Regions from separate parts of the Homo sapiens genome. Here region 1 is reported to be linked to region 2. The links are microRNA targets in miRTarBase. Many come from high-throughput screens and were not tested one by one. Region 2 holds a microRNA gene; the other region holds the end of a gene's coding sequence.

What was found. The annotated mature microRNA hsa-miR-520h reads ACAAAGUGCUUCCCUUUAGAGU and lies in region 2 at 2,726-2,747, shown strand. An mRNA with a match to its seed (bases 2 to 7 or 8) in the 3' UTR can be bound and repressed. Matches are read on the target gene's strand: a 7mer-m8 pairs with bases 2 to 8, a 7mer-A1 pairs with bases 2 to 7 and ends in A, and an 8mer does both.
Region 1: the mRNA of NFATC2IP is a reported target of hsa-miR-520h. Seed matches in the 3' UTR shown: 7mer-m8 at 2,220-2,226.

Annotation. Positions count from the first base shown.
Region 1 is chr16:28,963,523-28,967,568 of GRCh38, reverse strand. NFATC2IP (nuclear factor of activated T cells 2 interacting protein) reads right to left here. Exons shown (of 8, transcript NM_032815.4): 8 at 477-3,864. The coding sequence ends at 3,706. It overlaps NFATC2IP-AS1 (NFATC2IP antisense RNA 1), which reads left to right and starts at 1,125. Exons shown (of 2, transcript NR_186408.1): 1 at 1,125-1,153.
Region 2 is chr19:53,719,495-53,724,020 of GRCh38, forward strand. It overlaps MIR520G (microRNA 520g), which reads left to right and starts at 2,672; the gene lies at 2,672-2,761. MIR520D (microRNA 520d) reads left to right here and starts at 602; the gene lies at 602-688. It overlaps MIR517B (microRNA 517b), which reads left to right and starts at 1,582; the gene lies at 1,582-1,648.

The DNA of each region.
Region 1 (4,046 bases), not on the chromosome of region 2:
GCAAGTGAAAGAGAGGGGACAAGCTGCCCGCTATGCACACTTCTGGGAAGTGATACCCCATTCCACTTACACCCCAGGAGCCTGTATTGGCACTTGGCTACATCTAGCTACAGTGGAAGCCAGGAAGTACTGTCTTAATTTTTTTTTTTTTTTGAGACAGGGTCTTGATTGTTGCCCAGGCTGGAGTGGGTTGGCACAACCATAGCTCACTGCAACCTCAACCTCCTGGGTTCAAGCGATCCTCCCACGTCAGCCTCCCAGGGTGCTAGGTAGATTCCAGGTGTGTGCCCCCATGCCTGGCCACTGTTTTTATTCTGAGTGTCTCTGTGCCTCGCTAAAAACCATGGGTTCTAGTACCACAGAAGGAGGAAGAATGGATGTGAAGGAATAAGGATCTTATTCCTGTCTCTGTCACAAGGATCTTAGTGGGGGTCACATGAGGGCCACAAAGACAAAAATCCTCCAGTATACACAAGTTGAACATATTGCCATTTATTTTGTTGAGGTTAAACATATAATTTTAACGTATTCAAACTTATTAATGGACATTTAAAAAGCTGAAAAAGTGAAGAGCTGTACCATGTCGTGGATTATTTTAATGTCATAAAATTCAAAGGAATGCCACATTTCAATAAAACATTTTAAGAAGTTGACATACTTTTATTAGAATCATGCAAATATTAGAGAAAGGTTAATGGCTTTTTTTTTAGTAGACATTACTGAGAAAACTGGCTCATTATATCACAAAAAGTGAAACTTGGATCTCATATATAAAGGTGTATTTCACTGAATTTTTTTTTTTTTTTTTGAGACAGAGTTTCCACTCTTGTCGCCCAGGCTGGAGTGCAATGGCGCGATCTTGGCTCACTGCAACCTCTGCCTCCTGGGTTCAAGCGATTCTCCTGCCTCAGCCTCCCGAAGTAACTGGGATTACAGGCGCCTGCCACCACACCTAGCTCATTTTTTTTTTTTTTTTTTTTTGTATTTTCAGTAGAGACAAGGTTTCAGTCTTGAATTCCTAACCTCCGGTGATCCACCTGCCTCAGCCTCCCAAAGTTCTGGGATTACAGGCATGAGAAACCATGCCCAGCCGATTTCTCTCATTTTTTTTTTTTTTTTTTTTTAAGAGACAAGGTCTCGCTGTGTTGCCCAGGCTGGTCTCAAACTCCTGGGCTCAAGCAATCCTCCTGCCTTGGCCTCCTGAGTACAAAAGTGCATCTCAAATAGTTTTAAAATGATGTGCAATATTTAGCAACCAGTACAGCCCAGCATCAACCAATTAGAAGAAGTGTCTGACTGTTGAGAACAGATGCAGCCAAGGTGTCACCCCGGTGTGTACCAGCTGGACTTCAGCACTGTGTAGTGTTCTCAATATGAAAGGAAAAGCTGAACAGCTAACAGGAGAAGATGTAAAATATCTTAACAACTCTATTAAATAAGCAATCAAAAAGCAACCAACTGCAGAACAAGATAATTCATACTGTCTACATTAAAATTAAAATTTTCTTTTTTTTTTGAGACAAAGTCTCTCTGTCACTCAGGCTGATGTGCAGTGGCACTGTCTCTGTTCACTGCAGCCTCCACCTCCCGGGTTCAAGTGATTCTCCTGCCTCTGCCTCCTGAGTAGCTGGGATTACAAGCATGCGCCACTGCACCCAGCTAATTTTTGTATTTTTAGTAGAGATGGGATTTCACCAAGTTGGTCAGGGTGGTCTTGAACTCCTGGCCTCAAGTGATCCACCCACCCCGGCCACCGAAAGTGCTGGGATTACAGACCTGAGCCATCACGCCTAGCCAAAATTAAGAATTTCTGTTCAGTGACGGATACCCCTAGATACAAAGAAAATTTCAATTTTTTCCCCTTTAAATCTTTTTTTTGAGTGGAGCCTTGCTCTGTCGCCAGGCTGGAGTGCAGTGGTGGAACCTTGGCTCACTGCAATCTCCGCCTCCTGGGTTTAAGCGATTCCCCTGCCTCAGCCTCCAGAGTAGCTGGGACTACAGGTGTGCGCCACCATGCCCAGCTAATTTTTTGTATTTTAGTAGAGACGGGGTTTCACCATGTTGGCCAGGAGGGTCTCAATCTCCTGCCCTCATGATCTGCCCGCCTTGGCCTCCCAAAGCCCCCTTTTTAATTTTTTTTTGTAGAGACGAGGTCTCGCTATGTTGCCCAGGCTAGTCTCGAACTCCTGGGCTGCAGCGATCCTTCTGCCTGGGCCTCCCAAAGTGCTGGGATTACCAGTGAACCTCCATACCCAGCCCAAATATGCATTCTTGGAATTATCTGCAATTGCCCAAGAATGTACAAGCAACTCCTGAGAATAAACCAAAAAAGATAAGAAACTCCATGAGAAAATGGGCAATGCACAGGAAGGGAAACCAGAAAGGCTAAGTGAAAAAATTCCCCAAATTAATGCTGATCAGATGAATGTATGTTAAAGCACTGCACCACTATCTACCCATGAGACTGGCAAAAATTAGGTAGTCTGGCAATACAAGTGCTGGCAAGGATAAGGAGAAAAGGGCGGCCTCAAGTAGGAGGGTCAGTCACCGTTCTAAAGAAAATCTGGAAAACCAAAGAGAAACTGACCTCTGTGACCTATAGGCCCATCCTGGGTACACATGCCACACAAGCACAGAAGGGAACACACGAAAGGATGTTTATCGTGGCCTGTATCCGGTGCCAAGGGGTCAGGGGCACCCAGGTGTCCCCCACTTTAGGCAATGTGTGTAAACTGCAATTGACATTGTGGAGTGCCACATGGCAGGTCAAAGCAATACTGCATTTCTAGAAGAGTCAATGGGGCTAGATCTTAGCACACATTGAGTGAAAACAGCATAAGACCTATTGCACAATAGCACTATGTACAGTAAAAGCACATATTCACACATGAAACGTGGTATTTTACAAATACATTCATATTCAAAGACATGGGTGCTTATGGGAGAGGATGGTGTAAAGAAAGGGAAAAAAGCCATAAAACCAGAGAATCTTTGCATGGGACTGTATTCCTGAGATCCCAAACCAAAGGGATGAATGTGCTGTTATGCCTTAAATGTGTGCACCAGGAAATGCAAACTAGAAAGGGTGGCTCTGAAGGGTCCTCAGGTGAGGAAGACCCCCAGGGCTGAGAATCCACCACCTTCATCCTTCAAAAGAGTACCTCAGTTGTCTGCTTACGCTTCAGCCAGCATGTGTGAGCTTGGTCATTTCCTGCAAGCCAGGCAACCACACCAGTGTATAAGCCTCAAGCAAATGTCACTCCCAAGCCCCAAATGGGACTAAGGCCTCTGCTGGGCTAGGCGTGGTGTAAATCCCAGGCCTGGAAGCTCCTACCCAACCCTCATTTGTTTCAACTCACTTTCAATATGTGCATAGTTTCATAAAGCAGACATTTCCATGAGGAAAAGAGGATGGTGGTGAAAGGGGAGGGGTGAAGGGACATCTCCAAGTCACAGAGGCTGCAAAACTCAGCATGACTTGTGGACGGAGCCACAGGCCACCCAGGGCAACAACACCCACATAACTCACCAAGTGGTTAACGGCTCTAAACCAGGGTCAACAGGAGAGGGGACAAAAGTCACTCCTTGATTTTGCTGCAGCTTAAAGATAAGTTCTACCTCAGCTTATGCTAGCCCTTATGGGGCAAAAAAGGGAAAGTCATTCTCCCCAAGTCCAGGCTGGGCCGTCAAACAGGGAGTGGGGTGTCAGCCCCAGACCTCAATGAGGTCCCCAGATTCCATGCCCAGGTCAGCTGGCAGCTCCCTGCCTGAAAGCTTTGTCCCATCAAAGAAGAAGGAGAGCTTCCGTCCCGACAGTCCCATGGCCTCCTCATAGTGGGACATGAGGGTCTTTAGAGGGGAATCCTGGATGGAGACAAAAGAAAATGGACGTCAGAACATGAAAGGGGGCGGGGATCCCGTAGGGATAGACGAGGAACTTGGGACAGGGAGGATGGCGGCAGGGGCGGAAACAATAAAGTCAGGGCCCCATGCGGGGAAAGGAGAGAGGACAAAGAAGCCAGCCCAGCCAGGCTCCTCTCTGGGAG
Region 2 (4,526 bases):
GATTGCAGACAGCCACCGCGGCTGGCCTTCATATATTCTTATATATATAATATCATGTACACACAAAAGACTCTTTTACACCCTGAGAATACTCTTATATCACTTTGGGCATTTTTTTGTTGGTGTGTGCATTTTTTGTTTGTTCGTTCGTTTGTTTTTGAGACAAGATCTGGCCCTGTCACCTATGCTGGAGTGCAGTGGTGTGATCTCGGCTCCCGGCAACCTCAACCTCCCACCTCAGCCTCCTGAATTAGTGTCTACAGGCATGCACCTCTATACCTGGCTAACTTTTGTATTTTTACAGATGAGGTTTTACCATGTTTCCCAGGCTGGTGTCTAACTCCTGAGAATATAAGGTATATGTAGTAGGCGTTGCTTTTTCTCTTTGAAGACAAAACCCAGGACAGTTGTCCCTCGATGAACAAGGCTAACCTGCTGAACGTTTGAAGCAAGGAACTGGAGATGGTCTTTGTATCGGTTTATGTTCTAGATTCCAGAAAATATGCAAACAGGACCAATAAATGCATCTTTATTTTTGTGTCCATTTTGACCAGGTCAAGGAAAATTTCAACAAGAAACCCAGAGTGCCGGAGCAAGAAGATCTCAAGCTGTGAGTCTACAAAGGGAAGCCCTTTCTGTTGTCTAAAAGAAAAGAAAGTGCTTCTCTTTGGTGGGTTACGGTTTGAGAAAAGCAACGTTGAAGTTGATGCTGATTTCGGTAATACATTTGCAGAGCATGCTTATCACACTTGGACGATGGTGGGGTTCTGTTTTGGTTTTGCTTTTTTATTCTAAGGCTCTGTGTTGCTCATGCTGGAGTGCAGTGACATGTCCAATATATCTCTTGGCTTCAAATGGTCAGCCTGGGCAACACAGGGAAATTCTGTCTCAAAAAATAAACAAATGAATAAAAATACAAAATAAAGCCGGGCATGGTGGCTCATGCCTGTAATCCCAGCACTTTGGGAGGCCGATGCAGGTAGATCATCTCAGGTCAGGAGTTTGAGACCAGTCTGACCAACGTGGTGAAAATCCGTCTCTACTAAAAATACAATAACAACAAAAATTAGCCCAGTGTGGTGGTGGGCACCTGTAATCCCAGCTACTTAGGAGGCTGAGGCAGGAGAATTGCTTGAACCCGGGAGGCAGAGGCTGCAGTGAGCCGAGATTGTGCCACAGCATCCAGCCAGGATGACAGAGTGAGATTCCGTCTGAAAAAAAAAAAAAAAAAAAAAAGCTGGGCGCTGTGGCTCACGCCTGTAATCCCACCACTTTGAAAGGCCGAGGCGGGTGGATCACGAGGTCAGGAGATCGAGACCATCCTGGCTAACACGGTGAAACCCCATCTCTATTTAAAAATACAAAAAATTAGCGAGGCGTGGTGGTGGGTGCCTGTAGTCCCAGCTACCCGGGAGGCTAAGGCTTGAGAATGGCTTGAACCCAGGAGGCGGAGCTTGCAGTGAGCCGAGATCGTGCCATTGCACTCTAGCCTCGGCAACAGAGCAAGACTCCGTCAAAAAGAAACAAAAACAAAAACAAAAAAAAGAACCCTACAGTACTGGAGCAAGAAGACCTCATGCTGTGACCCTCTAGATGGAAGCACTGTCTGTTGTCTAAGAAAAGATCGTGCATCCCTTTAGAGTGTTACTGTTTGAGAAAAGCAACGTTGAAGATGCTGCTGATCTTGGTAATACATTTGCAGAGCGTGCTTATCATCAGACTTGCATGATGTTGGGGTTCTCTTTGGTTTGTTTTTTTCCAAGACAGGTTCCCTGTTGCCCAGGCGGGAGTGGGTGGCACCTCCAACCGAGATCTCTTGGGCTCAAGTGGTGATCTTTTTATTTTTGATTTTTTGAGATGCGCTCTCATTCCGTTTCCCAGGCTGGAGTGCAGCGGCAGGATCCCTGTTGACCGGAAACTCCGCCTCCCAGCTTCCGGCGATTCTCCCACCTCAGCCTGCCGAATAGTTGGGAATAGAGATGCCCGCCATCGTGTCCTGCTAGTTATTATTTTTATTGTTGTTGTTGTTGTTGAGATGGAGTTTCACTCTTGATGTCCAGGCTGGAGTGCAGTGTTGCAATTTAGGCTCACTGCAACCTCCACCTCCTGGGTTCAAGCGATTCTCCTGCCGCAGCCTCCTGGGTAGCTGGGATTACAGGTGCCTACTGCCCCACCCAGCTAATTTTTGTGTTTTGAATAGAGACTGGGTTTCACCATGTTGGGCAGGCTGGTCTCAAACTCCCGACCTCAGGTGATCCACCAGCCTTGGCCTCCTAAAGTGCTGGGATTACAGGCGTGAGCCACCGCCCCTAATCTCACGTGGTCCTCTAGAGTCAGCCTAGACTCTGGTCTATCCTGGAGGATGTTTGTGTGTGAGACAATGTATATTCTTCAACATCAGCCCAATTCTCTTAGCTAAATGTAAGGTATGAGTAGTAGGTATTCCTTTTTCTCTTTGGGGACAAAACTCAGGACGATCGCCCCTTGATGAACAAGGCTAACCTGCTGAGCCTTTGAAGCAAGGAATTGGAGATGGTCCTTTCAGGGGTTTATGTTCTGGATTCCATAAAACATGTAAACAGGGCCAATAAATGCATTTTTATTTTTGTATCCGTTTTAACCTGGTCAAGGAAAATTCCAACAAGAAACCCAGAGTGCTGGAGCAAGAAGATCCCATGCTGTGACCCTCTAGAGGAAGCACTTTCTGTTTGTTGTCTGAGAAAAAACAAAGTGCTTCCCTTTAGAGTGTTACCGTTTGGGAAAAGCAGTGTTGAAGTTGATGCTGATGTTGGTAATATATTTGCATGCTTATTATCAGACTTGGATGATGTTGGGGTTCTGTTTTGTTTTTGTTTTCTAAGACAGGGTCTCTGTGGCCCAGGCTGGAGTACAGAGGCACTTCCAACCTAGGTCTCTTGGGCTCATATGGTCCTTTTTGGGACAGTCTTCCTCTGTGACCCAGGCTGGAGTGCAGTGGCACGATCTTGGCTCACTGCAATCTCCACCTCGCGGGTTCAAGCTATTCTCCTGCCTCAGCTTCCTGAATAGCTGGGATTGCAGGGGCCCGACATCACACTTGGCTAATATTTGTATTTTTCTTTTTTATTCATTTATTTATTTTTGAGATGGAGTCTCGTTTCCCCAGCTGGAGAGCGGTGGCATGATCCCGACTGACTCCAACCTCTGCCTCTCAGGTTCAAGCAATTCTCCTGCCTCAGCCTCTGAAGTAGCTGAAACTACAGGTGGCCGCCACCACGCCTGGCTACGTTTTGAATTTTTTTTTTTTTTTTTTTCAGTAGAGATGGGGCTTACCATGTTGGCCAGGCTGGTCTCAAACCCCTGACCTCAAGTGAGCCACTCACCTTGGCCTCCGAAAATGCTGAGAATACAGGCATGAGCCACCACCGCGCGCCTCCCAAAGGCGTGAGCCATGGTGCGTGGCCATCAACACCTCTTACTTTATGGAAATTTTTCTGGCACTGGTATAGAACCTCACATGGGGTCAGGTGGAGTTGAGGGGACCTCAGTGTCCCTGCAGATGGGATGAGCAAGAGCACGGAGGTGGAGTGCATGGGGCTTCAGTGTGTATTGGGGAAATGAAGCTGAAATCTTGGGTGCATGACCAGGAGATAAATGCATGAGACGGGGGTCTCACTATGCTGCCCTGGCTAAAGTGGTCTTAGATCCTCCTGCCTCTGCCCCTCCCAGGCCTTGTTAGATGGGACTACATGTAAATATTAACCCATGCACAGGCAGGAAGAAAGTAAGGACCATTTTTTGGTTCGTCCCGGCCCTCAGTTAAACTTGTGTTTTAGATAAACAATGTATTTGAGATGTGCTTAAACAATAAATGATACGCTATTTAGGTGTGGGCATCTTTGTTTCCCCCTAATTTTAATGATGGGACTAGTCCAGGTATGGTGGCTCCTGCCTATAATTCCAGCACTTTGGGAGGCCGAGACAGGAGGATCACCTGAGGTCAGTTGTTCGAGACCGGCCTGGCCAACATGGTGAAACCCCGTCCATACTAAAAATACAAAAATCAGCCAGGCCTGGTTGCACACACCTGTAATCCCAGCTACTCGGGAGGCTGAGGCAGGAGACTCGCTTGAAGCCAGGAGGCTGAGCTTTCAGTGAGCTGAGATTGCGCCACTGCATTCCAGCCTGGGCAACTGAGTGAGTCTCAGTGTCAACAAAGTAAATAATAGTCTAGGCACAGCGGCACACGCCTGTAATCCCAGCACTTTAGGAGGCTAAGACGGGAGGATCACCTGAGGTCAGGAGTTCAAGACCAACGGGGCCAACGTGGCAAAGCCTTGTCTCTACTAAAACTACAAAAATTAGCTGGGTGCGGTGGTGCACATCTGTGATTCCAGCTACTCGGGAGGCCAAGACAGGAGAACCACTTGAACCCAGGAGGAGGCGATTTCAGTGAGCTGTAATGAAGCCATGGCATTCCAGCCTGGGCCACAGAGCAAGATTCCGTCTCAAAAATAAATAAAACAAATAAAAATACGTAGATAAAT